Linked DNA regions of Homo sapiens: regions 2, 3, 4, 5 and 6 are each linked to region 1. The links come from fine-mapping of genetic effects on gene expression. A gene starts in region 1. Each other region holds a variant in brackets. All regions are shown on one strand. Distances are from middle to middle. Region 1 holds the start of NRG1 (neuregulin 1). Region 2 has its middle 39 kb from the start of NRG1-IT3. Region 3 has its middle 44 kb from the start of NRG1-IT3. Region 4 has its middle 8.4 kb from the start of NRG1-IT3. Region 5 has its middle 38 kb from the start of NRG1. Region 6 overlaps NRG1 (neuregulin 1).

Region 1 (4,091 bases):
CTTCAGGTTCATTCAAATGAAAATGTATCACAAAATCGTAGGCTCTTCCCCTATCTCACTGAAAAATTACTCTAAAAATGACCAGTAAGCTGTTTTGTTGAAGCAAAACATCCAGACCCTAAACAAAAGTAGCAGAATTACAACATTTCCATAGAAATGGATTTTGAGCTTCTTTTTTTTAATTGGGGAAAATCTTATTTTTTAAAAAAGAATCCCAGAATACATCTTTGCTTTCAGTCCTTCAATTCTAACATAATGCCATGTTAGAGAATATGTGGTAGTGTATACTAAGCCCTTATGCTGTCTCACATCCTTGGGACAAAATATCTGTTTTGAAAGGACTTCTCTGAATTTTGCTATTTCCTGCTTACTGAGCAGTGGCCCCCTCCTGGGAAAACAGAGTTATTTCAGCCAGTGTTCAGACTCCATCTTGCATACGTCTCTGTGGAATATTAATAGTGCTACTGAGATATATTCATCATCTTTTCTCTGCTTTTGCTGTCTTTATAGCCCAGTGAAATTTATATTTGGTGTTTGTAGGAAGGCTATCAGAAGCTACTTGGACATCAAACTTTTAAACTATAAATAATGATGGCAAGACTGCTAGGATATCTTTCCACAGTTAAACCCATTCAACAGAGTTTCGTTCTTATGACAGTGCAAATTAAACTAGAATAAAATTAGTGTGATTTTAGGACAGTTTTAAAGTGAACATATTTCCCTCCCTCCCTTCCCATCTACATATCAAGGAGACACTCCAGACTGCACTTTTATTTAAATTGCGGCCATCAGAAAATACCGTGAGAAGGTAGTGTGTAGGTAATGGTTCAGTTAGCATTGACCCCAGAAAATGGAAAACCAAGAGCAAGTCACTTTTAAAGTGAAGCAATAGATTTTGAATATGGATTGTTCCAACTCACCACTTCCCGACCACAACACAAGAGTATTTCACTGTAAATTAAGAGTCTAAGTTAACCACAGCTGTGGTATAACTCTGAGAATGTTTTCTCTACATGTAGACAATTCTGGATCCTTCCGTGGTGCCCGTTACCCTGGTCTTTAACTTTTGTCCTTTGCAGGGGAGGGGTCAATGCCTTCTTATTTCCTTGCTCTTTAGAATTCTCCACCAGAGGGAGGACAAGGGAAGGAGTAGGTTTCACGCGCAGTTCTGAGTAAAGTTTGAATCTGAGAAACCCCACATTCACGAATTAAGGATCTCCAGTTCTGTGTCTTTATTCTACCCCTCCCTGCCTGCTTTTCCACTCGGCAGAACTGAGTGACTTTCAGCGGCTGCAGTAATTTTAATTATTCTGAGTCGTGCTCCGAACTATGTTTTTTATCAGTTCCTCTGAAAATTAAGTTGTAGTAAGAGACGTAGTTTAAGGGCACCCCCTTAGAAGAGGCCAGGTTATTTTTTAAGGAAAAGCTGAAGATTTCTAACAGGCACTTACTAAACACACACACACACACACACACACACACACACACACGCACACGGCGCAGACCCAGCAGGAGAGCGCAACCTAGCATCTTTAAGGTTCGCTTAGCCCTTCCTGTGCACCTGGAAGGAAGCCTTATCTTAAACTCCCTTCCACCTAGAGTTTATTTTCGCCTGCGTGCGACAGGGCTTTTGTACTTAAGTGAGTTAAGGAATGAACCCCGAACTCTTCTGGGAAAGCCACCAACGTTCCCCCCGCACCCCTCCCAGGGTTCCTGACCACGGAGACTCTGCTTGGGGCACAGGTGTGGGAGTCGCAAACTTTTCTCTGCGCCGTCCTTTTCCGCGTGGAATGGGACGGAGCAGCCCTCCCAGGCGCTGCCTGGCTGCGGAGGGGAGCGGGCAGCGAGAGCCTCGGGTCTCCGCCTGGGTTCCCGGGTCTCCGGGGCGCTGGCCTCGGTCTCCGCGCAGCGTCCAGCGACCCCTGTCGGGGGTTCCCGGCAGCCGCGCCGCCACCCCCCGCCCGGCCAGCGCGGGAGGAAAAGGGGCTGCGCCCGGGAGCGCCGAGCCCAGGCTCCTCCCGGTGGCGTGTCCGCGCCTCGGGGTGGGGGTGTGGTGGGGAAGAGGGAGGGGGCGAGGCCAGGGGAGGGTGCGAAGGAGGCGCCTGCCTCCAACCTGCGGGCGGGAGGTGGGTGGCTGCGGGGCAATTGAAAAAGAGCCGGCGAGGAGTTCCCCGAAACTTGTTGGAACTCCGGGCTCGCGCGGAGGCCAGGAGCTGAGCGGCGGCGGCTGCCGGACGATGGGAGCGTGAGCAGGACGGTGATAACCTCTCCCCGATCGGGTTGCGAGGGCGCCGGGCAGAGGCCAGGACGCGAGCCGCCAGCGGTGGGACCCATCGACGACTTCCCGGGGCGACAGGAGCAGCCCCGAGAGCCAGGGCGAGCGCCCGTTCCAGGTGGCCGGACCGCCCGCCGCGTCCGCGCCGCGCTCCCTGCAGGCAACGGGAGACGCCCCCGCGCAGCGCGAGCGCCTCAGCGCGGCCGCTCGCTCTCCCCCTCGAGGGACAAACTTTTCCCAAACCCGATCCGAGCCCTTGGACCAAACTCGCCTGCGCCGAGAGCCGTCCGCGTAGAGCGCTCCGTCTCCGGCGAGATGTCCGAGCGCAAAGAAGGCAGAGGCAAAGGGAAGGGCAAGAAGAAGGAGCGAGGCTCCGGCAAGAAGCCGGAGTCCGCGGCGGGCAGCCAGAGCCCAGGTGGGTGCGCAGCGCGGCCCGGGCCCCACGATCCTCCTCCTGCTCCTCCTACTCCTCCTCCTCCTCGGATGCCGTGGCCTCTCCCTCCCCCTCTCCCTCGCCCGTCCTCTTCGCCCTGCGCTCTGAGCGCCCGTTGAGTCGCGCGGTGCTTCCCCTCCTGGGGGCCGCCGCTCACCTGGGCGCCGAGTCCTACCGGGCGCCTACGCCCAGAGCTCAGGGCAAGGGACAGCAGTCCCGGCCGCACCCTCCCAGAGTCCCGGGAGCGCTTCGCTCCCTGGCACGGCCCCTCCCCAGCGCCTTAGCGGCTGAGCCCAGCCCGGGAGTGGGACCTGGGCTATAGGAGTCGAGGCTGCGTGCGCGCGTGCCCCGCGCCATAAGCGCTTTGCACGGGGGCCGTGTGCCCTCTAGCGGGAAACGCTGGAATGGGCCGCCTGGAGGGAGAGCCGGTCCCCTCGGTGTGCCTGGCAGCGCAGAAGTGGGTGGTCGAGCAAGAGGCCGCGTGGGAAGTTAGCTTCGGCGTTTTGGGGCACAGGGCAAGCGATGTAGAGTGCGCGCCGGTTCATCTTGATTCAGTCCTGTGCTACGGAGACTCAAGAGCAGCGGCAGGGATTCCTAAAGGTCAGCGAAGCAGATGAAATCTAGTCCAGTGTCAGGAATCAGCTCTGCCCCAAACAAGTTCTACAAACTTTTGGCTTAACAGTTCTATTTTTCAAGACCTCTGTGATAAATATGGATAATTTACTTTCCCAAGAGATGTAAGAAAACAACCGTTTATCTGAATTTTTGAACCCAATTGTTTGCTGGTTATCTATATAATAAAATGGCAATTGAAGCTTTCTAGAAACAAATCTTGTATTTCATCATCAGAACACGAGCATGAACAAAAGCTTTACCTTAGATGTCCCTAGGAAGCGCTGATGCTTTGGACATTACCTTGGACAAAAGAGGCATGTCGAATAAATACTTGTTTATGAGTGATTGGTAGGTAGCTGATAAAAGAGGGGAGGAAGGAGATGGGGGAGAATTTATTTTTTGCCTCTGCAATTCCCAATTATTAATTGATCCAGATGCCTTAAGTCGCTTCGAGCGTACCCCCAACACACATTTCATGAAGCACTTCTGCAGAATTAATTCACTAGTACTTGATAATACTGTGGCTACAGTAATACTGTAGAAGTATTTGTCCCTTGCTGGAAGAAAACAAACCACATTTGCTTGGTCTTCTTACTGGTATCACTGATAGCATTTCAGAACCTGGGTTATTGGCAGAGACCTTCAGCAGAGTTTTGAGCAAAACAGAAATTGAACAGAGAGTAATTGTTTCACCACTGGCCATTCTTGTGCTTGCTTCTTTAATAAGATCCTGCTGATCATATTCACTTCAATTACTGATCATTGCCC
Region 2 (4,091 bases), 150 kb before region 1:
AGAGACTTTTCCCTCCTGTAATTCTTTTTATTATCAAATATCAGGTATTATAGGGTATAAGCCAGTGTTCTTTTTTATGATTTCCAGAAGTGTTAAATTTTCCATGTCTTCTGCATTTGAAAGTAATAGGTTTGGAAAGAGAAAAGCTGTTCATTCTTCAAGTACATGTAAGTTTAAGTACCTTGCAGACTTTGTTTTGCAGGAAGCTTCCTTGCCTTCTCCCCATATCACCTCTCTGCACCTCTTCACACCCATGAGGGTCTTTATAGCAGTGCAGTCCATAAATTGTTTTGAGGTACCAATACCAGTTTCTTGGATATTTTCTTACTTAGGAACATAAATACTTAGGCTGCCATTGCGTTAATAAGGAAATGCTGGATAGTCAGAATCCTACATTAACCCGAGCCTAAAATCTGTAGTATCGCTTCAAATATCTATGTAGAAAGCATAGTTTATTAAACTAAACATCTCCTGTAATCCCAGCACTTTGGGAGGCCAATGTGGGTGAATCACTTGAGGTCAGGAGTTTGAGACCAGCCTGGCCAACGTGGCAAACTCTGTCTCTACCAAAAATACAAAAATTAGCCAGGTGTGGTGGTGCAACCCTATAGTCTGAGCTACTTGGGAGGCTGATCACTTAATTTAAAACTTAAAAGACCTAATATCCAGAATCTATAAGGCACTTAAACAGATTCACAAGCAACAAACAAACCCATTACAAACTGGGCAAACGACACGAACAGACACTTTTCAAGAGAAGATATACACATGGCCAATAAGCATATGGAAAATTACCCAATATCACTGATCATCAGAGAGATGCAAATCAAATCCACAATGAGATACCATTTCACGCCAGTCAGAATGGTTATTATTAAAAGGTCAAAAAATAACAGATGCTGACAGAGTAAAGGGAACGCTCATACACTGCTGGTGGGACTGTAAATCAGTTCAGCCGTTCTGGAAAGCAGCATGGCGATTCCTCAAAGAACTTAAAATAGAATTATCATCCAATCCAGCAATCCCATTACTGGGTATGTACACAAAGGAATACAAATTGTTCTATCATGAAGACACCTGTACACATATGTTCATCATAGATAGCACTGTCCGCAATAGCAAAGATATGGAATCAGCCTAAATGCCCATCAACAGTAGATTGAATAAAGAAAATGTGGTACATATACACCATGGAATACTATGCAGCCATAAAAATGAATGGGATCATGTCCTTTGCAGGAACATGGATGGAGCTGGAGGCCATTATCCTAAGCGGACTAACACAGGAACAGAAGAGTAAATACTGCATATTCTCACTCATAAGTGGGAACTAAACAATGAGAACCTATGGATACATGGAGGGGAACGACAGACACTGGGGCCTACTTGAGGGTGGAGGGTGGGAGGAGGGAGAAGATCAGAAAATATACCTATAGGGTACTATGCTTATTACCTGGGCGATGAAATAACCTGTACACCAAAGCCCCATGACACGCAGCTTACCAATATAACAAACCAGCACATGTACCCCTGAACCTAAAATACAAGTTAAAAAATAAATACATAAAAATTTAAAAATAAAAAATAAAACTGCAAACGTGCCCTGCTTTCTGGCAGTACCCCATTCCCTGTTCCTTAGTTTTCTCTCTGGCACTTATCATTTATCTATTTTATTCATTGTCTGTCTCCCTTCACTAGAGGTTCATGAGGGCAAGGATTTTCATGTTCTGTCCACTGCTATGTCCCTAACACTTAAAAAAAGGCTTTGCATTCTATAGTCATTCGATGAAATAGGCTGAATTTAGCTAAAAGGGAGTTCATGTCCTTTGAAGAAACATGGATGGAGCTGGAGGCCATTATCCTTAGCAAATGAACACAGGAACAGAAAACAAAATACCACATGCCCTCACTTATCAGTGGGAGCTAAACAAAGAAAACACATGGACACAAAGAGAAGAACAACAGACACTGGGGTCTGCTGAGGGCAGAAGGTGGGAGGAGGGAGAAGATCAGAAAAACTACCTATCAGGTACTATGCTTCATACCTGGGTTACAAAATAATCTGTA[C/T]GTCAAATGCCTGTGACACAAGGGTACCTGTATAACAAACCTGCATATGTACCCCTGAACCTAAAATAAAAGTTGTTTGTTTGGTTTTTTTGTTTGTTTGTTTGTTTTGAGACAGAGTCTTGTTCTTGTTGCCCAGGCTGGAGTGCAGTGGCGCGATCTTGGTTCACTGCAACCTCTGCCTCCTTGGTTCAAGCAATTCTCCCTGCCTCAGTCACCCGAGTACCTGGGACAACAGGCGCCTACCACAACGCCAGGCTAATTTTTGTATTTTTTAGTACAGATGGGGTTTTGCCATGTTGGCCAGGCTTGTCTCAAACTCCTAACCTGAGGTGATCTGCCCACCTCGGCCTCCCGAAGTGCTGGGATTACAGTTGTGAGCCACCACGCCTGGCCTAAAAGTTTTTTTAAAAAGAGAAAACACTTTCCTTACCCTTTGTAGCTCATTGTCTATCTAACACACCCTGTCACTCTCATCAGCCTTGAACTTCTTACAAAGCCATTCAATAAAATGAAAGGAAATAGGTGCAGTGGGCCCCCTCTGATTCGTGGCTTTGATTTCTTTGGTTTCATTTATCCACAGTCTAAAAATATTAAATGGAAAATTTAAAAAAAAAACAATTCATAAGTGTTAAATTGCATGCCATTCTGAGTAGCGTGATGAAATCTTGCCCTGTCCCACTCTGTCCCATGCGGGACATGAATTCTTCCCCTTTGTCCAGCAGTTCCTCACTGTCTATGCCTCCGACCTGTTAGTCACTCAGTAGCCCTCTCAGTTATTAGATCGACCATGGCAGTATGGGGGTGCTTGTGTTGAAGTCACCCTTATTTTACTTCCTAATGGCCTCAAAGCACAGGAGTAGCAATGCTGGAGATTTGGAGCTGCCAAAGAGAAGCCCTAAAGTGCTTCCTTTGAGTGAAAACTCTTAATAAGGAAAGAAAAACATTGAATGCTGAAGTTGTTAGATCTTCTATCTGTTGAACTGTGAAGAAGAAAAAAGATATTTGTGCATAGTATATAAAGGGTTTCGTACTACCCACGGTTTCAGGCATCCACTGGGTGTCATGGAATGTATCCCCTGAGGATAAGGGGGGATTACTCTATGTATTTTCGTATCCTTACATCACTTACATTATTTTTCCTCAGCCTTGTTGAGGAAAATAAAAACACAGAAGCCAAGAAAGAAATGAGCAAGCACTGGCCGGGCACAGTGGCTCACACCTGTAATCCCAGCACTTTGGGAGGCCAAGACGGGTGGATCACCCAAGGTCAGGAGTTCAAGACCAGCCTGGGCAAGATGGTGAAACGCCGTCTCTACTAAAAATATAAAAATTAGCCAGGCACAGTGGCAGGTGCCTGTAATCGCAGCTACTTGGGAAGCTGAGGCAGAGAATTGCTTGAACCTGGAAGGCAGAAAAGTTGCAGTGAGCCGAGATCATGCCACTGCACTCCAGCCTGGGCGACAGAGCGACACTCTGTCTCAAAAAAAAAAAAAAAAAAAAGAAAGAAAAAAGAAATGAGCAAGCACTGAACACCTACTGTGTGCAAGGCACTTGATAGCCTTCCTGTTATTTCTTCCTCACTACAATCCCATGAAGTAGTTCTTATCCCCATTTTACAAGATACAAAAATTGACTCTCAAAAAGCTTAAGAAATTTGCTTCTAGTTGCACAGTCTTATAGATTTTCACTTTTATAAGATAAAAGAGCTTATTCAAATCCAAGTCTGTTTGAACCTGACAAGGAAAGCCTTCTCTAAATAGAGTATCTGAATCCCTCCCTGCTCGAAAGTCTCCTTTATACGCTCATGTTTCAAAAATTTCACATTTTTTGAGATATAGATAGTACCCACCCACATCACCTCTGTTTTTATGGAAAATTTACACTTAAGTGGCAATTATTTTAATCAGATCGACATCCTAGAGAGTGAGAGTTCATTGAGGAAAGAAGGAAGGTACATTTTTGGATCATAATGAGGAGAGATCTTGATATTTTTGAAATTTGTTTTGTCTTCCCATGGTACAAAG
Region 3 (4,091 bases), 64 kb before region 1:
ATAACATCCATATCAGTTTCTCCATCCATTCTTTGCACATCACTGGTAATGCCTGAGATCAAATCTGCCATGCTTTTCCGGGCAGATCCAGGCTGGGATCTCAGTATCCCTGCTTCCCTGAAGCTGTCCAACCTCACTCCCTTCATTGCTCTGCTGTGATTAGGAAGGAGCCATTCCAAGGACTATGGGGTGCTCTGTGGGATAAGCCCAGTCCTTCTTCCATACAGGAGGAACAGGGGACGGGTGCTGACAAGAGGAAATGCATGGAGCAGAGAGAGGGAACAGGCAGATGGACTCAAGGTCCCCAGACTCTTTCGAGTGTTGAATCAGAAGGACTGGAGCTGTGGGGGAAGAGGGTGGGAACAGGGTAGTGGAATAACATGCAGACAGATGGGCTGAACTGAAGGTCCAGAGGCACTCCCAGCCGTCAACCAGCAGTTCTTACACCAGGTTGATGTTAGGGAACAACCCCAGCTTTAAAACTTATTTATACCAAAGTGCCAAATGACTCATTTGAGACAAGGCTTTGATCTCTGGGGACAGGGCGTTAGACAGCATGAGGCTTAGGTTGCCAGGTGTCTTCCCACAGTTCCTGTCTTGTGTATGTTACACACTCAATTCATGTCAGGATGACACTACATTGGCATGATCCAAGGGAACCCATAACTGACATGAATATGTGTGTGTGTGTTGATTGGGGAGATGGGAAAGAGAACATTTCTTCCAGATTTTCTAGTTCTTATAGTTCATAATCTTAATCCTCATCTCCACTTCTCTGCCACTTCTCTGGCTAAATCCAAAGCACAGCCTGGCTAGAGAGGACTTCTCTTCCTTGGGGGTTCTAGTCTATTCTCTGAGTTGTGACAAACATTTCCATTCCCTGTAATTACCCACTTGCCTTGTCTCTGAAGAGGCATTCACAGAATAAACCAAAAGAATTGTAGTGTTAGGAAGATGTCAAATCATTTGACCTCTACTCCATCTCCGGCTTTTCCTTCTCCCCCCATGAAAGTTATGCATTTAGTTGCCTCTTGTTCATTAGTCTGGACTTAGAGCAAAGTGACTACTTCAACTTCTTGTGCTCAACATATGCCACAGTTGCTTACATGTGATAAGTCCATTTGTCACTTGATAAGCCTTTGCTAGAATTTCCTTCTCTCCATCTCCAACCTTATAATGATCTTGAAGGCAATGTCGGAGGCTAGGTAAGTCTTCTTTGTGTTCCCCACTTGAGCATAGGTGAGCTGTCATGTCAATTTCCTTACACTACTGAGAAGAGGGGATGTGGGTGGGCAGGGACCCCCAGAAACAACTTTACCCCTTTCACAGTTTCCATCACTGCCTCCAATGTCCACCGACGTTAGAAAGTTTGGGCAGAAGTGGCCAGGTGCGGTGGCTCACGCCTGTAATCCCAGCACTTTGGGGGGCCGAGGCGGGCAGATCACAAGCTCAGGAGATCGAGACCATCCTGGCTAACATGGTGAAAACCCGTCTCTACTAAAAATACAAAAATTAGCCAGGCGTGGTGTCAGGCGCCTGCAGTCCCAGCTACTAGGGAGGCTGAGGCAGAAGAATGGCATGAACCCAGGAGGCGGAGCTTGCAGTGAGCCAAGATCGCACCACTGCACTCCAGCCTGGGCGACAGAGCAAGACTCCGTATCAAAAAAAAAAAAAAGAAAGTTTGGGCAAAACCTAGAGTTTCAGGGAAAGTCATTTGAGGTTTGGTTTAGGCAGGAAATAGAACAAAACCAGTGTACTAAGGAGAATACAGTGGAAATAAGAGGGAAAGGAATGAAGAAACTGGTAGGCTACTAAAATGCCCAGGTACAAACTACTGAACATCCACCTTTATGCTGTCAGTGGGCAGAAAAAGAAATAGACAATGACAAGATACATTTTGAATTAGTGTGATTTAAGGACTGGCTGATGTGCACAAAACATGAGAGAAGGGAGTCAACTTTGACAGAGATTTCAAGAGCAGATCACTGATGAAATGTGATAACATTCAGAAAATAGAGAAGTTGACATGGGCTTTGATGAAAACACAATGAGTTCAGTTTGAAGCATTTTGAAGTCAAGGTGATTTTGTGAAATACAAACGATGCTGTCCAGCAGGCATAGAATCTATCTGGAGTCATTTGTACAATATACCTATGCCTTTTTTTTTTCTTTCTCCTACTGTAGACTTAGATAGGAACTCACTTTTGTCTTTTTTCTGCTAGGCCAATAAATACGTTCTCAGCTTAGAAAAGGGGCTTTTTGGTTTGCCTATTTCTGTTTCTTTTTACAGAAGTTAACACATTTATTTGTGACCTATTAAAATCATGAAGTATTACCACTGGGTTTTATGTTTTAATGGAAACATTTCATGT[T/C]TAGAGAATAATGATGCTTAAAATTTATATGAATTAAAATTTTAGCCTGTAAAAAGAGCCTGGAAATATCTTCATACCATCATCTATCCTTCCACTTAAATATTAATCACAAAGAAGATCAGGCGTAGTGAACATACACCACGCAACCTCCCATTCAGAGAATTCTTGTGCAAAGAAGGATTCCAAAGGGTTTCAGAAATACTAAACTTCTTGAAATTGAAATTGAAATTGAAATCCTTCTTGGCTTCTCTACCTGTTACTTCCTCTGCAGTGCTCAGTATAGTGTCTGCTCTCCCTCCTTTCTTTTTCTTTTTTTTTGAGACAGATTTTCACTCTTGTTGCCTAGGCTGGAGTGTAATGGCGCAATCTTGGCTCACCGCAACCTCTGCCTCTTGGGTTCAAGCGATACTCCTGCCTCAGCCTCCCAAGGAGCTGGGATTATAGTACCACGCCCAGCTAATTTTGTCTTTTCAGTAGAGATGGGGTTTCTCCATGTTGGTCAGGCTGGTCTCCAACTCCTGACCTCTGGTGATCCTCCCTCCTCGGCCTCCCAAAGTGCTGGGATTACTGGCGTGAGCCACACACCCGGTCTGCTCTCCCTCCTTTCTTCACTTTTCTGCTTCCTCTCTCATATTAATAATAAGCTTCTATCTTTCCTTAATTGTTTACATATCTGTCTGTCCTCTTTCTCCACCCCACGAACTCCTCAAAGGCAGAGTCCCTGTCTTTTTTATTTCATATCCCTAATGGTAGCTGCAAAGCAGACACTCAAGAAGGAAGGAAGGAAGTAGGTGGGAGAAAGGAAGAAGAAAGGAAAATGAAATTAACTACTAGTTTGTTTCCCTGTTTCATTGAGAACACACGTATTAACCAAACAAGTAAACAATTGTCAGAATATTGCATTTTAAACTCCTGAGAGAAGTTGCTGCTTCTGTGGCATTTCTATCTAATTAAGTTTCCCCTTAAAGTTGTAATCTTTTCTTTCAAATCTCATAATACGTCTTATTTAGGTGATCATACCAATTATATCTTTCCCACTCAAACCCCTAAAGTTATCCTTGAATAAATGAGCCTTGCAAATTATATTTCCCCAATTTGCACTTATTTCTTTCTTTTTTTTCTTTTTTCTTTGAGACAGAGTTTCACTCTTATTGCCCAGGTTGGAGTGCAATGGAGTGATCTCAGCTCACTGCAACCTCCGCCTCCTGGGTTTAAGCAATTCTCCTGCCTCAGCCTCCCAAGTAGCTGGGATTACAGGCGCTCCCCCCCTCCCCATGCCTGGCTAATTTTTTATATTTTTAGTAGACAGGGTTTTGCCGTGTTGGCCAGGCTGGTCTCAAACTCCTGACCTCAAGGGATCTGCCCACTTCGGCCTCCCAAAGTGCTGGGATTACAGATGTGAGCCACCGCACCCAGCCTCAGAATTTCTTACTGAATAATCCTTTTATAGTTTGTTATAACTAACACAAAACAGTAGTGGGAGTTCTTATTCAGATAGCTAACAAATTCCAGGCACCTCCTGTACTATAAGTGTCCCTCATAGCACAAAGGGGAAAGCTGCCCTTTAAGAATCCATAAATGCAATGAAACTCTACTTACGCCACCCAGGTTGTTAGGACACAGGAATATTAATCTGGAGAAGCCTTTGATAATAGAATATAGTCAAAGTTGACATTGTGCTAGAATATTTGAATTTTTTATTTTCCAGAAATTATTTTC
Region 4 (4,091 bases), 99 kb before region 1:
ACGTAGCTGGGATTACAGGCGCCCACCACCACACCCGGCTAATTTTTTTTTTGTATTTTTAGTAGAGACGGGGTTTCACTATGTTGGCCAGGCTGGTCTTGAACTCCTGACCTCGTGATCCACCTGCATCGGCCTCCCAAAGTGCTGGGATTATAGGCATAAGCCACCTTGCTTGGCCCTAAAATACTTTTAATAAGATTGTCTCATCCTTCTCTTGGTTTTCCAATGGAAATGGTGGTATAGCAAGTCCATCTGAAACACTTCTGCAAAATAACAATGAAGCTAATCACTGTGGGAAACATTTACATCATATGTATTTGCATACAGAGGAAATTGATAATCTTGAGACATCAGCATACTAGAATAGCAAGAGACATGTTTTATTCTATTATATTCTCTTAGTCAGCAATGTTTAATTGTTGCTTAAAGGAAACTGAATAAAACGTGGGCGCAGTGGCTCCCACCTCTAATCCCAGCACTTTGGGAAGTTGAGGAGAGAGGATCGCTTCAGCCCAAGAGTTTGAGACCAGCATAGGCAACATAGTGAGACCCCATCTCTACAAAAAATATTTTTTAAAATTAGTCGAGCATGGCGGTGGCTCCCTGTAGTTCCAGCTACATGGAGGGCTGAGGTGGGAGGATCACTTGAACCAGGGAGGTCAAGGCTGCACCCTGGCCTGGGCAACAAAGCCAAACCCTGTGTCAAAAAAAAAAAAAAAATACGTAAAGCAACAGTTTTTCTATAACGGATTGCATGGTAAAAGGAAGGATGACTTTCTTACTATAACTCCTTATGATAATTTTTTCCAAAGTGTTAATCTTAGGGGTTGAAATTTTTATAGGTAATCATTAACTTTAGTAGAACATTATTTTAAAGTTTAGGTATTTCATCTGAGTATATTACTCTGGCTTTCCTAAGCTAGCTTAGTTATATATGTTCACTTCAGTTTGAGTCTCCACTAAATTTTAACATGAACAAAATATTATATGCAACACCATAGAAGCAATTGTTAAATCATTGTTACTTTTAATATCACCTAAATCTAACCTAAGTAAATGTGTTTATTTTTATTACCAACTGATGTAGATATACCCACATGGACAGAAAACAGCATAAACCACCAAAAGGACTTGAAAATTCCCTCTTCAAGACTTCTTTTGCCAATGACTAATGTTTAATGCTATTTGCTAGAGATTCTGGTGCCAGGAGGATTTCTAACCAGGTTATTTTATCAATAGGAATAAAATATCGAGGGCTTAAATTAGTGTAATCTCTCAAGATCTTGAATTTGACGTTTTCATAATTTTTACTTAATCATAGCTCCTGGGGATTGGAATTACTCTTTTAGCTGGCCCGAGTCTGGGAGGAGGATCCAAAGTCTTTGAGTTGTTTTCTTTTATTTCTTTTTAGCCCCTAAAGCACTGGAAATGGTTGGCCCTGAAGTGCTCCTAAGGTAACCGCAAGATGAGGCAAAACAGGATTGAGATGAAAACCAAGCTCACCCACATCCTACGTCAATTAGCTATTTTTTTTTCTGTGTAAACAATGGGAGGGAGGTGGATTGTAGCTTTTATGGTAGAGGTTCCTCGGCACCTCCTGACGCCCCCAGGGGTCCCCCCTGCCACTGCCCTCAGCCCAAATATAAGCTGACAACAAAATGTTTCTTCAAAGTGCTCATTGTTTACTCTATTCTGGCTTCTTCTTAAAGGTCATCATCATGTTGAATTATCTTGAGAAAATCCTCTGAAGTGTATGTGTGTGTGTGTGTTTAGGAAGGATGTGAGGAGGATTGGGAGGTGAGTCTCTGAATAACAAGTTGAAAAAAGAGTATGGAGGAAAGCGGTGTTTAAAATTGTCCAAAGCCATCGGCCGGGCATGATGGCTCACGCCTCTAATCCCAACGATTTGAGAGGCTGAGGTGGGAAAATTGCTTGAGCCCAGGAGTTTGAGACCAGTCTGGGCAACATGGTGAAACCCCATCTCTACAAAAAAAGTACAACAATTAGCTGGGCATGGTGGTGCATGCCTGCAGTCCCAGATACTCAGGAGGCTGAGATGGGAGGATCACTTGAGCCTAGGAGTTTAGGGCTGCAATGAGATGTGAGTGCACCACCATACTCTAGCCTGGGCAACAGAGCAAGACCTTGTCTCAAATAATAATAATAATATATAAATAAACAAATAAATAAAATTATCCTAAGTGAAATCAGTTGTTGATAGAACTGAAGTACATCAAGCCTAGTGGGACTGTGGTTGTCTCTCCAGCC[TA/T]AAAAAAAAAAAGAACAAAAACAACAACAAAAAAACTTAACTCCAAAATTGCTGTTGCTCCATTTATTTCAGGTGTAAGACTTCTTTGAGATTTAAAAACAATATAATCATTTACAATGTACTTTGTTGGACCTAAGCATAGGAAAATTCATTCATTCATTCATTCATTGAGTACCTGTTATATGCCAGGCAATGCACTAGGCACCATCAAAGATGAATAAGCTATGTGCTAAAATTCACAGTCTAACAGAAGAAACATGAAAGCAGAGTGGAAATATACTGTGGCAATACATATTTGGATATACTGGTATTAAAAAGTAAGGATGTTTCAGCTAAATCTTTTTTGGTGTTTATTTTTTAAAAATTCATCTATTAACTTCCTACACACCATGCATATATTCAGCTAAATCTTAAAGTATGAGAAGAAACATGCCATTCATGAAAGGGAAGAGGGAGCCAGTGCATCAGATACAACCTATGCAATCGTGAAGATTTATGGCAGAGCACAGGATATTTGGGGATTGGCAGGCATTTCAAAATGGCTGGCACATAAAGTTCCGGGATGGGAACAGGCTGGCAAGAGAAGAGATCATCGGAGCCAAAGTAACTGAACTGTGATTGAATTTTAGATATGATAATATCTATAGGAAACCTGGCAACCCGGTGGGCAGGTAAATATGATAGAGCGAAGATAGAATCTTCAGGCCTTCAGGGGACTAAGCAGGAATAGAATAATTTTATTGAGCACTTTAAGTGGACATTATGCTAGATTATTTTACATATTTCATCTCCTTTAATTTACACCACAACCCTGTGAGTGCAGGTTGATAAAGAATTAAATAAAATCCAGGTGAAGTAGCAGCACCTATAGTTCCAGCTACTTGGGAGGCTGAGGTGAGACCATTACTTGAGGCCAAGAGTTCCAGGCTGTAGTTCACAATGGTTGTGTCTGTGAATAGCCACTGCACTCCTGCCTGGGTGACACAGTGAGACCTCATTTCTAAAAAAGAAAAAAAAAATTGAGACAGGGTCTCGCTCTGCCACCCAGGCTGGAGTACAGTCACGCAATTACAGCTTACTGCAGCCTTAACCCCCAGGCTCAAACAATCCTCCCACCTCAGCCTCCCAAATAGCTTGGACTACAGGTACATGTCACCACACCTGGCTATTTTTTGTATTTTTTGTAGAGATGGAGTTTCACCATGTTGCCCAGGCTGGTCTTGAACTCCTAGGCTCAAATGATCCTCCTGCTTCCACCTTCCAAAGCGCTGAGATTATAGACGTGAACCACTGCACCTGGTCTAGAAATTATTTAATAATAAAAAAATGAAGACAGAATTCAATGAAGAGCATAGAAGAGTCTCTTAAACCTTTGTTTTAAGCTATGAGCCAGGAAAGAGATGGTGGCAAGGGTGAGATGGTTGCAGTGCTTTTTTGTTCACTTATCTCAGGCCTGTGTGTTCTGAGTTAAAGACAAGTCAGTTGGCAAGAGAAGGAGAGAGGAAGCTTCCCAGAACCATTTGAAGGAAAATTTGGAAAGTCTTCTCTAAGGGAGTTGCCCTCAACTACCTTTTAACACAAATGGAGGACTGAAAAACAAAACAAAACAAAACAAACAGGAAGGAATTGCAGATATACAGATCTTTGGCCTTTCAAACTATGGTATCTCTTAGTACTATTTTATATATTGATAATAATTATAATTTTTCTCAAACTTCCCAAAAGTGGAACATTGTGGGAAATAATATGGGAGTGGACATTTGAATTTCTGTTTGACTTTGCAGCAGAAATCTCTTTTCTAACTCTCTCTTTCAATCTCACC
Region 5 (4,091 bases), 38 kb before region 1:
ATGTTGGCCAGGCTGGTCTTGAATGCCTGACCTCGTGATCCACCTGCCTCAGCCTCCCAAAGTTCTGGGATTACAGGCGTGAGCCACCGCGCCTGGCCTAAGGGCTATTTTTTAAGTTGCAAAACAAAAACAAAGTTTTAACAGTTGTCATTCTGATATGTAGAATTATTAGGAAACCTACACTATTTATTTTTTATACTTGTATATACTTTGTGGTTTTGTTGTTGTTTTGGTTTTTTGTTTGTTTGTTTGTGTGAGACAGAGTCTCACTCCGTCACTCAGGCTGGAGTGCAGTGGGGCAATCTTGGGTCACTGCAACCTCTACCTCCCAGGTTCAAGCAATTCTCAGGCCTCAGCTTCCTGAGTAGCTGGACTATAGGCACACACCACCATGCCCAAATAATTTTTATATTCTTAGTAGAGATGGAGTCTCACCATGTTGGCAACGCTAGTCTCGAACTCCTGACCTCAAACGATTTACCCACTTCAGCCTCCCAAAGTGCTGGGATCACAGGTATGAGCCACCGTGCCTGGCCTATACTTGTGTATACTTTGAATTGTTTCTTTTTTCTTTTCCTATTTTATTTTATTTTATTTTATATTTTATTTTATTTTATTTTTTGCGACAGGGTCTGGCTCTGTCACCCAGGCTGGAGTACAGTGGTGCAATCATGACTCACTGCAGCCTCAAGCTCCTGTGCTCAGGTGATCAGCCTCCTAGGTAGCTGGGACTACAGGTGACCACCATCACACCCAGCTAATTTTTGTATTTTTTCATAGAGATGAGGTTTCACCATGTTGCCCAGGCTGGTCTCAAATTCCCAGGCTCAAATGAACCTCCCACCTGGGCCTCCCAAAGTGCTGGGATTACAGGTGTGAGTCACCACATCCGGCCTGAATTGTTTCTATTATTCACATATAACTTTGTAATCTTAAAAAAAATACTTAAGACTTTAAAACAAAGATGATTAGAGCCTGGATTAAGCTAGTGTCGGCAGCCTGAGGAGGGAAGGTTTTGGATGCCATTGCCAAAGTAGATTGAAGAGGAATTGGAATTTGAGGGATGCAGGTGATTAAAGGAGAGGGGGAAGAGTCAAAGGTGACACTCACATTTCTAGCTTGGTAAATTGGTTGTTTGTTTATTCCATTAATAGAAATAGAGAAAAGAGACAGCAGAGGAGGGCTTCATTGAGGAGGATGACTTTGTTAGTTTCATTTTGGATTTAAGTCTGAGGGTCCTGAAAAGGCAGCTATATGTTTGGCTTGAACCTCTCCACTTTCCACCTTCTCAGTAATTCATTAATATTTTGGATGTCCTAGCCTGTTGATGTGTGTGTACTGGAGGTGGTGGTGGTGGGAGCTAATATGTTTAGAAGTTAACATTTCATCTGTCTTTATCCTTTTACTCTCCTTTCATTCAGACCCTACAATTATTGCTACAGGGAAGAAATGTGGCCTTGCCTGTGAAAATCTAGTTTTTGGAATTTTTTTTGCTTGTTTTCCCCCTAAAATTTAGCTCCAAAAGAGAGAAGATTCTTAACTAGTGGAAAAAATGTCTTGGTCAGAAACAGGAGAAAGAACATAGCTATCCTAGACAA[AAATAAT/A]AATAATAATAATAATAATAATAATCATAAAAGCAAGGGAGGGAGGGAGAAAGGGAAAGAAAGAGAGACAGAAAGAAAAAAGAAAGAAAAGACAGGAAAGGAAAGAAAGGAGGGCTAGGCATATTGCCTCGTGTCTATAATCCCAGCACTTTGAGAGGCTGAGGCAGAAGGACTGCTTGAGCACAGGAGGTCAAGGCTGCAGTGAGCCATGTTTGTGCTGCTGCACTCTAGCATAGGTAACATAGGGAGACCCTGTTTCAAAAAAATAAAAAATAAAAAAAGGAGGAAAGGAAGAAAATTCCAGTAGAATAAAGAAAAAAGGAAAAAGAACAATATTTACAAGTACCTGCAGAGAGAAGGTGAGAAGATGAAGACCTGTTTTCTACTTTTTTGGGCAGCACTGCTAAAGAAATAAAAAAGTACCCAGAAGTCGCAGGACTCTAATAAAATGGAACATCACCTCTATTCCTGCCTGTTCTTTGGAGGAGTAGAAGGTGAGGAAATGGGGAAGTGCAGGATGAGTGATTCTGGAGAAGACATGGCTGTGCTCATGTTGGGCTGATGATGTCACTGATAACTAAAACAAAGGGCTCAGCCAGGCACCCAGAAGCCTCAGGGCCACCGCACCCTAAGGACCATGCAGGCTGAGACAGGACTCTTTTCAGTAATCCGGAAGATGGCTCCACCCTCTCTAGTCCAGGCCATACCCTGGGCCATACCCTTAGCAGTGCTACCCAAAAAAGTAAAAAACAGGTCTTCGTCTTCTCAACTTCTCTCTCCAGGTTCTTATAAACATTGTTCTTTTTCCTTTTTTCTGTATTCTGTTGGAATCTTCCTTTCTTTCTTTCTTTCCTTTTTTTTTTTTTTTTCTGAAGCAGGGTCTCCCTATTTTTTTCCATGCCATACCCTGAAAAAAATCTCTGGGGAGAGGATCCCAAAGAGACAAAGGCTAATTTTCTCACCATGCTTATAGATTAGGGGCTTTGAGAAAATGAGGGTATGTTTTTAAAGTATTTTAATAGTGGACTGATCTATTTTACCTCCTGGACCAGATGAAATGGGAACTGTTCCAATTCATGGAGCAACCAGACATACATGTTCAAACAATTATGAAAAACATACAACAGATATTTATCAACAAATACATCAGTAAACAAACTTACATGACCCTGCTTGGCCATCACTGTTTCTTTTCAACACACACACACACATTTACAAATACATATATATGTGTGTGTGTGTGTCTGTCTGTCGATATATATGTGTATATATATATATATATATATATATATATATAAATAAAATAAATAGGTAAGAGCTGCTTATAGCCCTGAATCCCCACAGAAAACCCCGTCTGTCTTTAGTTTCATGAAAGCATTGTACTTTTTCTCATTATTTTTCAGACCATCACAGACACTTCTGATCAGTGTTCCACTTAAGCTTAGCCCCAAATACACAGAGGAATTTTATACTGAAAGTTAAAGAAGCGACAGTAGTTAGATTATCTCATGCCTCCTAGATTGGCTGGCTTTGAGCACTTTTTCAAAGTGTGTACCAACTAGGGTTTGTCCACCAAGTTGCAATGGCTTGTATTTGAGTCAGCCATACGTGCTCATGGATAAAAACAATAAGAACTCTTTATTAATATAAATATACTCTGTGAAGGCAAAGATGTGCTTTAAAGGAAATTTCTGAGCATGTGAGAAGTAGATGAGTTACATGAGGTTAGGAGCATGCAGCTGTGACCCTAAATGGGGAGAATACAGCCCCAGGGAGCTGTGATGCACGGCCACTGGGAAGCTAATGAAATGGGCAGAGCCAGGACCAGTGGGGTAGAATTAAGGCAGAAGCTTCCCTCTTGTGCTGGACATTGTGCTGGTCTCTTTCCTGCCCAGCACATGCCAGGTAGGAGGCTATAATGTGATCATGGGTCATTCCATGCCACAGGAATGGATTGGCCTGAGCTGGCCTTCTTCATAATCCAGGAATAAGGAGAAGAAAGAGGTAGGACAGAAGATGGTCCTTTATGGGGGATGAGGGGGATGGAGGGGGGAAGCTTCTAGAGGAATTGGAATTTTCACAGAAAGACATTTCTGCTTAGATACTAATACAGACGTACATATTTGGACAATATACATGTAGAATAAAAATTATTTGAATTACTTCAACAATTATGCCTACTTTTCAAAAGGCTTTGACATCAGCTATATAATTTAGCCATTTGGCAATATTAATCATAACTTACTAAACTAAATTTGACATTGGGATAACAGAATGGTAAAATGCAAACTGAAATCATAGCTTTATGATCACATGAATTTCCTTCAACAGCTGTTCACTGTTATTACTACTTATACCTTTGTTAGCATTCCAAGAGGATCTGATAATCATAGCTAGCATTGATTGAGCAATTATTATATACCAGACATTCTTCTAAGTGCCATTATCTCATTTACCCTACATAACAACCTTATATGGTAAGTATCT
Region 6 (4,091 bases), 63 kb after region 1:
TTAGAGGAGATACCCTTTTTGCTCTGCACCTTAGAGTCCTAGTTATAGTGCATCCAGAAGGAAAATATGTAATCATCTTGATCCCTTATCCTCTTCCACTGCTATCTAAGAATTTGCTATATTCTGTTCAATGCTTGGTTGTCAAAGAAGCCTCAGTTGGGTTCTGAGCTCTCCGGGGCTTAGATGCACTGCCTTTGTATTGTCTCATTCCTGTCTCCCTAGGAATCAGGGCAGACGTTGCACAGAAACACTTTTTCTGAGAGAAAAAGGGCACTTTCTACTGGGTTTATAAATTGCCGCACCACTGAACCATGTCTTCCTAAATAGATATTTACCGTTGACTTGGGCTGATAGAGAGTAGAATTCTCAAGAATTTCCTTCCCTCCCTCCTTCCTTCCTTCCTTCCTTCCTTCCTTCCTTCCTTCCTTCCTTCCTTCCTTCCTTCCTTCCTTCCTTTCCCTCCCTCCCTCCCTCTGTCTGTCTCTCTCTCTCTTTCCTTTTTTTTTTTTTTTTTTAAATGGTGTTTCGCTGTGTCACCTAGGCTGGAGTGCAGTGGCAGGATCTCGGCCACTGCACTGGATTCAAGCAATTCTCCTCCTGGATTCAAGCAATTCTCCTGCCTCAGCCTCTTGAGTAGCTGGGATTCTAGACACCCCCCACCACACCCCAGCTAATTTTTGTATTTCTTGTAGACAAGGTTTCGCCATGTTGGCCATGCTGGTCTCTAACTCCTGACCTCAAATGATCTGCCCACTTTGGGCTCCCAAAGTGCTTGGATTACAGGTGTGAACCATCACACCCGGTCAAGAATTTATTGTTTCATTGTGGATTCTAGAAAAAAAAAAAGTTGTTAAAATAAGAACATGCTGTCAAACTATTACATTATGTAGAACTCCCCTTGAGATTTTAATTTATATTTTCTATGAACTATCAGTCACTTTATTAATTTCATTTTTTCACCTTTTCTATGTATTTCCAAGAAGCTCATGGCTATAGTTTCGAGAATTTCTATACAGGTTTCCTTGATGAATGATCCTTGTAGGTTGCTGCAATCTAATTATCCTAATTTTTTCCTATGCAGAGGATTCCTTGTGATTCACTTAAATTCTCACACAGTTACTTTTTGTATGTTCCAACATGTTTAGAACATATTTTGATACAAGATTCTAAGAGAGATGGGGAGGTTGGGGGAGACATTCGTTGGAAGCTGTTTACTTTCTCCCCAGATGACCTTGCTGTTTGGCATGATGTTTAATCTCATTAAGGAAGCTATAGTAATTATTAAAATAAAATTAGATCATAAAAGTCTTCTGCAATGAAACTCATTGTTTAGATCTATCTGGATTAGTGACTAAATATAAACGAAATGATTAAAAAATTAGGAAATTCCCCTTGAAACAGTATATGCTTGGGTGTAACAGTGGCCATACTTATACTGTTTTCAAGCACTTAGAAAATAATACAGTCAAGCATTTTGCCAACCTACATTTTAGAAATGTAGGTGTTTTCTGTCTTTTCCAATGCCTTTCAACCCCTACTTTATTCAGAATTAGAGAAAGTAATTTATCCTGTAGTAGACATATATCAACCTATGCAATCTGCTAATTACTTCTGGGACAATGTAAAGCTTACAAAGACCAGTTGGGTTTTCATATAACAAAGGATCTCATAGGCAGTAATTATGTGATAACTTATGAGTGAATTCCTTTCATGAATTCGTATATGACAGCAGAAAAGGCCACATACATCATGTTTACACACCCTACACACTATATGTTCATTTGTATTTGTGGTTTATTTGGCTCAGTCTGTATATAGGAAACCTTGACTTAGCAATTAATTCTTAGCTAACAAGCTTTGTGAAAACTCCTGGGCTTTAGAGTAGGGAAGAGAATAATAGACTTTACTGGTTTCCAAATTAATTAAGTAATGCTTTCTTTTAAAAGATTAATATAGGAAAATATACAACTAATCAATCATATCTTCTCCTAAGTTTTCTTTTTTAATCAGAAGAAAAATTATTTGAATGAGATTCAAGTTCCCACAGGAGCAATTGGGCTTGTAGCAAAAAAATAGCTGTTTCATTTGAGATGAGCAGAAAAATATTATTTTTATAAAATTTAATTAAATTATCAATTGCAGCTTTTAAAAATAGACTCATACTGGTAATAGGCTTCGCCTTACCCCCTTTCCCAAATTGATAATGATGTTAGAAATTTCACAATATTGGGAAACAACCTGCAGTTATGTTGAAAAGCATGTAAAAT[A/G]TGTTTTATAATTTGTATAACAGTCTACATGTATATTGTATTATGTAGGATGCCCAGGAAGGCAAATACATGAGAACAATATGAAAGCAATAGGGTAGATTTGTCTTTTCAATGTATGGTATCCATCCTGTCTACACTGTTTATTAATTTCAAAATTTCTCAGTTGCCTTAGAGTAAGCATTCATTATGAACAGGAAGAATTCAGGTACTTAAAGATGTTCCTTAAGTTATCTTTATAACTGCTAATAAATAAATATGTCCACTTTTAAATCTTTTAAAGAAATCACTTGATCAAAATTTTTGTATGTACAGCAGTGACATATAAGTTTGGTAAAAAAGTCACATAAGTGAATGTTGGAATACACACAGACACATTTTATGTATGTTTGTATATACTGTATACAATGTGCATATGTGTATTTTGCTACATAATTATATTTAGTGTATTATGATCATGATGAAATTGCAAACATGTTACATTCATAATAATTAGAAAAATTCCTTTCTAGAAGATATCTTTGAGACCATGCAACTTTTTCCTGAGACCAGACCCCGTTTATTAAGAAAGAATTCAAACATTACAAATATACTAATGTTCATTATGTTTACTTGCCTGTTCAGCATAAGTTGCTCAGCTGTGTTCAGTTTCTGATAATTCTAAAACCTCATTAATTTGCACTAATGAAGGGGCTGTCCTTTATAAATTAACAAATGTAATATGCCAAATTACTATGGGAAAATATGTTGCTTAAATAAACATCATAAAGATTGCAGGATTTAATGCTTTTTTAAAAGTCTGTAAGTGTAATATAAAATTACTTTCAATTTACTTTTAACAAAAGGCTGTTTTCCAAATCTATAAATTCTACCCATAGCACACATAAAAATGCTTGCTGAGTGGTTTTAATTAAAAAGATTAACTTTCTTACTAGCAAGATTCTTTTTACAATGAAGACTCCTTTGGTGTAGAAGTATAGGTTAACTTTTGAGCTTGTATTTCCTCCAGGGTTAATTCAGAAAGTTTGTATTTGAAACCATAATCATTAAAGATATTTTAAGGTCTCCAAGATAAATACCTGATTTTAGGAAGAGGAGTTATTTTAAGTTGTCTCTGTGTAGATGCCTCTTTGTAGTAACCTCCTGTTCTGGTATTTTTAGGTAACATTCAATTAAAAAATGAAACATTATGGTTAACCTTCCCTCTAATCTGAGGTATTTTTTGCTGGAGATAGAAAAGTTCTGATTTTTTTTTCTTCTTGGAAGGTCACAGTGGACAGCTACTTTGTTTGTCAAAAATAAATTTGAAAAGAGTCTTGATATCCGAATTGGGATTGGGACTTCTGCCCAGCTCTAGTTGAGCACCTTGGGTTTACGACTTCATCTGGTTGTAATGTCATTGATGAATCCTGAAGGACAAGAGAAGGAAGCATCTCTCTTAGTGTAGGTCCTTTGTTTGGAAACATGGCCCTTCTAGATATTTCTAGAGAAGGACACACACTTTGTATCTCTAATATAGTTTCTTTGAGATTACATTTTCTCAAAGAAGAACAATTTCATTTTCTGCAGCCCAAATCAAGAAAGCTTGTTGGTGCTGCTTCAGAAACAGATATCTTCATATTACCAATTCGGAATATCCTCTTTCTCGCCTGATGCTTGAGAAAATCCTGAGAAAATGATGTACCCTCACATACTAATTCCTTTCAGTGAGCCCCATTTTTAGTGGATGTAAGAGCCAACGTAGGCAACTTTGATGTATTGAAACCAAGCTTACTCCTTGCATAGTTTGCCCTCCTAATCTGTGATTAGAGAGGATCATCCACACTT

What was found. PIP is the estimated chance that this variant, and not a neighbour inherited with it, causes the effect.
Region 2: its variant is the best candidate, but not a certain one, in a credible set for the expression of NRG1 in monocytes (Fairfax 2014, PIP 0.62).
Region 3: its variant is the best candidate, but not a certain one, in a credible set for the expression of NRG1 in whole blood (INTERVAL, PIP 0.66).
Region 4: its variant is the best candidate, but not a certain one, in a credible set for the expression of NRG1 in whole blood (INTERVAL, PIP 0.58).
Region 5: its variant is the best candidate, but not a certain one, in a credible set for the expression of NRG1 in whole blood (INTERVAL, PIP 0.51).
Region 6: its variant is the best candidate, but not a certain one, in a credible set for the expression of NRG1 in whole blood (INTERVAL, PIP 0.68).

Annotation. Positions count from the first base shown.
Region 1 is chr8:32,546,137-32,550,227 of GRCh38, forward strand. NRG1 (neuregulin 1) reads left to right here and starts at 2,175. Exons shown (of 12, transcript NM_013964.5): 1 at 2,175-2,690. The coding sequence starts at 2,591.
Region 2 is chr8:32,399,753-32,403,843 of GRCh38, forward strand. It overlaps a transcript of NRG1 not described here. Among named protein-coding and RNA genes, the nearest start is that of NRG1-IT3, 39 kb to the right of the region's middle. The variant C/T (reference allele first, on the strand shown) is at 2,068.
Region 3 is chr8:32,482,442-32,486,532 of GRCh38, forward strand. It overlaps a transcript of NRG1 not described here. Among named protein-coding and RNA genes, the nearest start is that of NRG1-IT3, 44 kb to the left of the region's middle. The variant T/C (reference allele first, on the strand shown) is at 2,373.
Region 4 is chr8:32,447,145-32,451,235 of GRCh38, forward strand. It overlaps a transcript of NRG1 not described here. Among named protein-coding and RNA genes, the nearest start is that of NRG1-IT3, 8.4 kb to the left of the region's middle. The variant TA/T (reference allele first, on the strand shown) is at 2,269.
Region 5 is chr8:32,508,499-32,512,589 of GRCh38, forward strand. It overlaps a transcript of NRG1 not described here. Among named protein-coding and RNA genes, the nearest start is that of NRG1, 38 kb to the right of the region's middle. The variant AAATAAT/A (reference allele first, on the strand shown) is at 1,599.
Region 6 is chr8:32,609,166-32,613,256 of GRCh38, forward strand. The region is part of intron 3 of NRG1 (neuregulin 1); the gene reads left to right. Among named protein-coding and RNA genes, the nearest start is that of NRG1, 63 kb to the left of the region's middle. The variant A/G (reference allele first, on the strand shown) is at 2,268.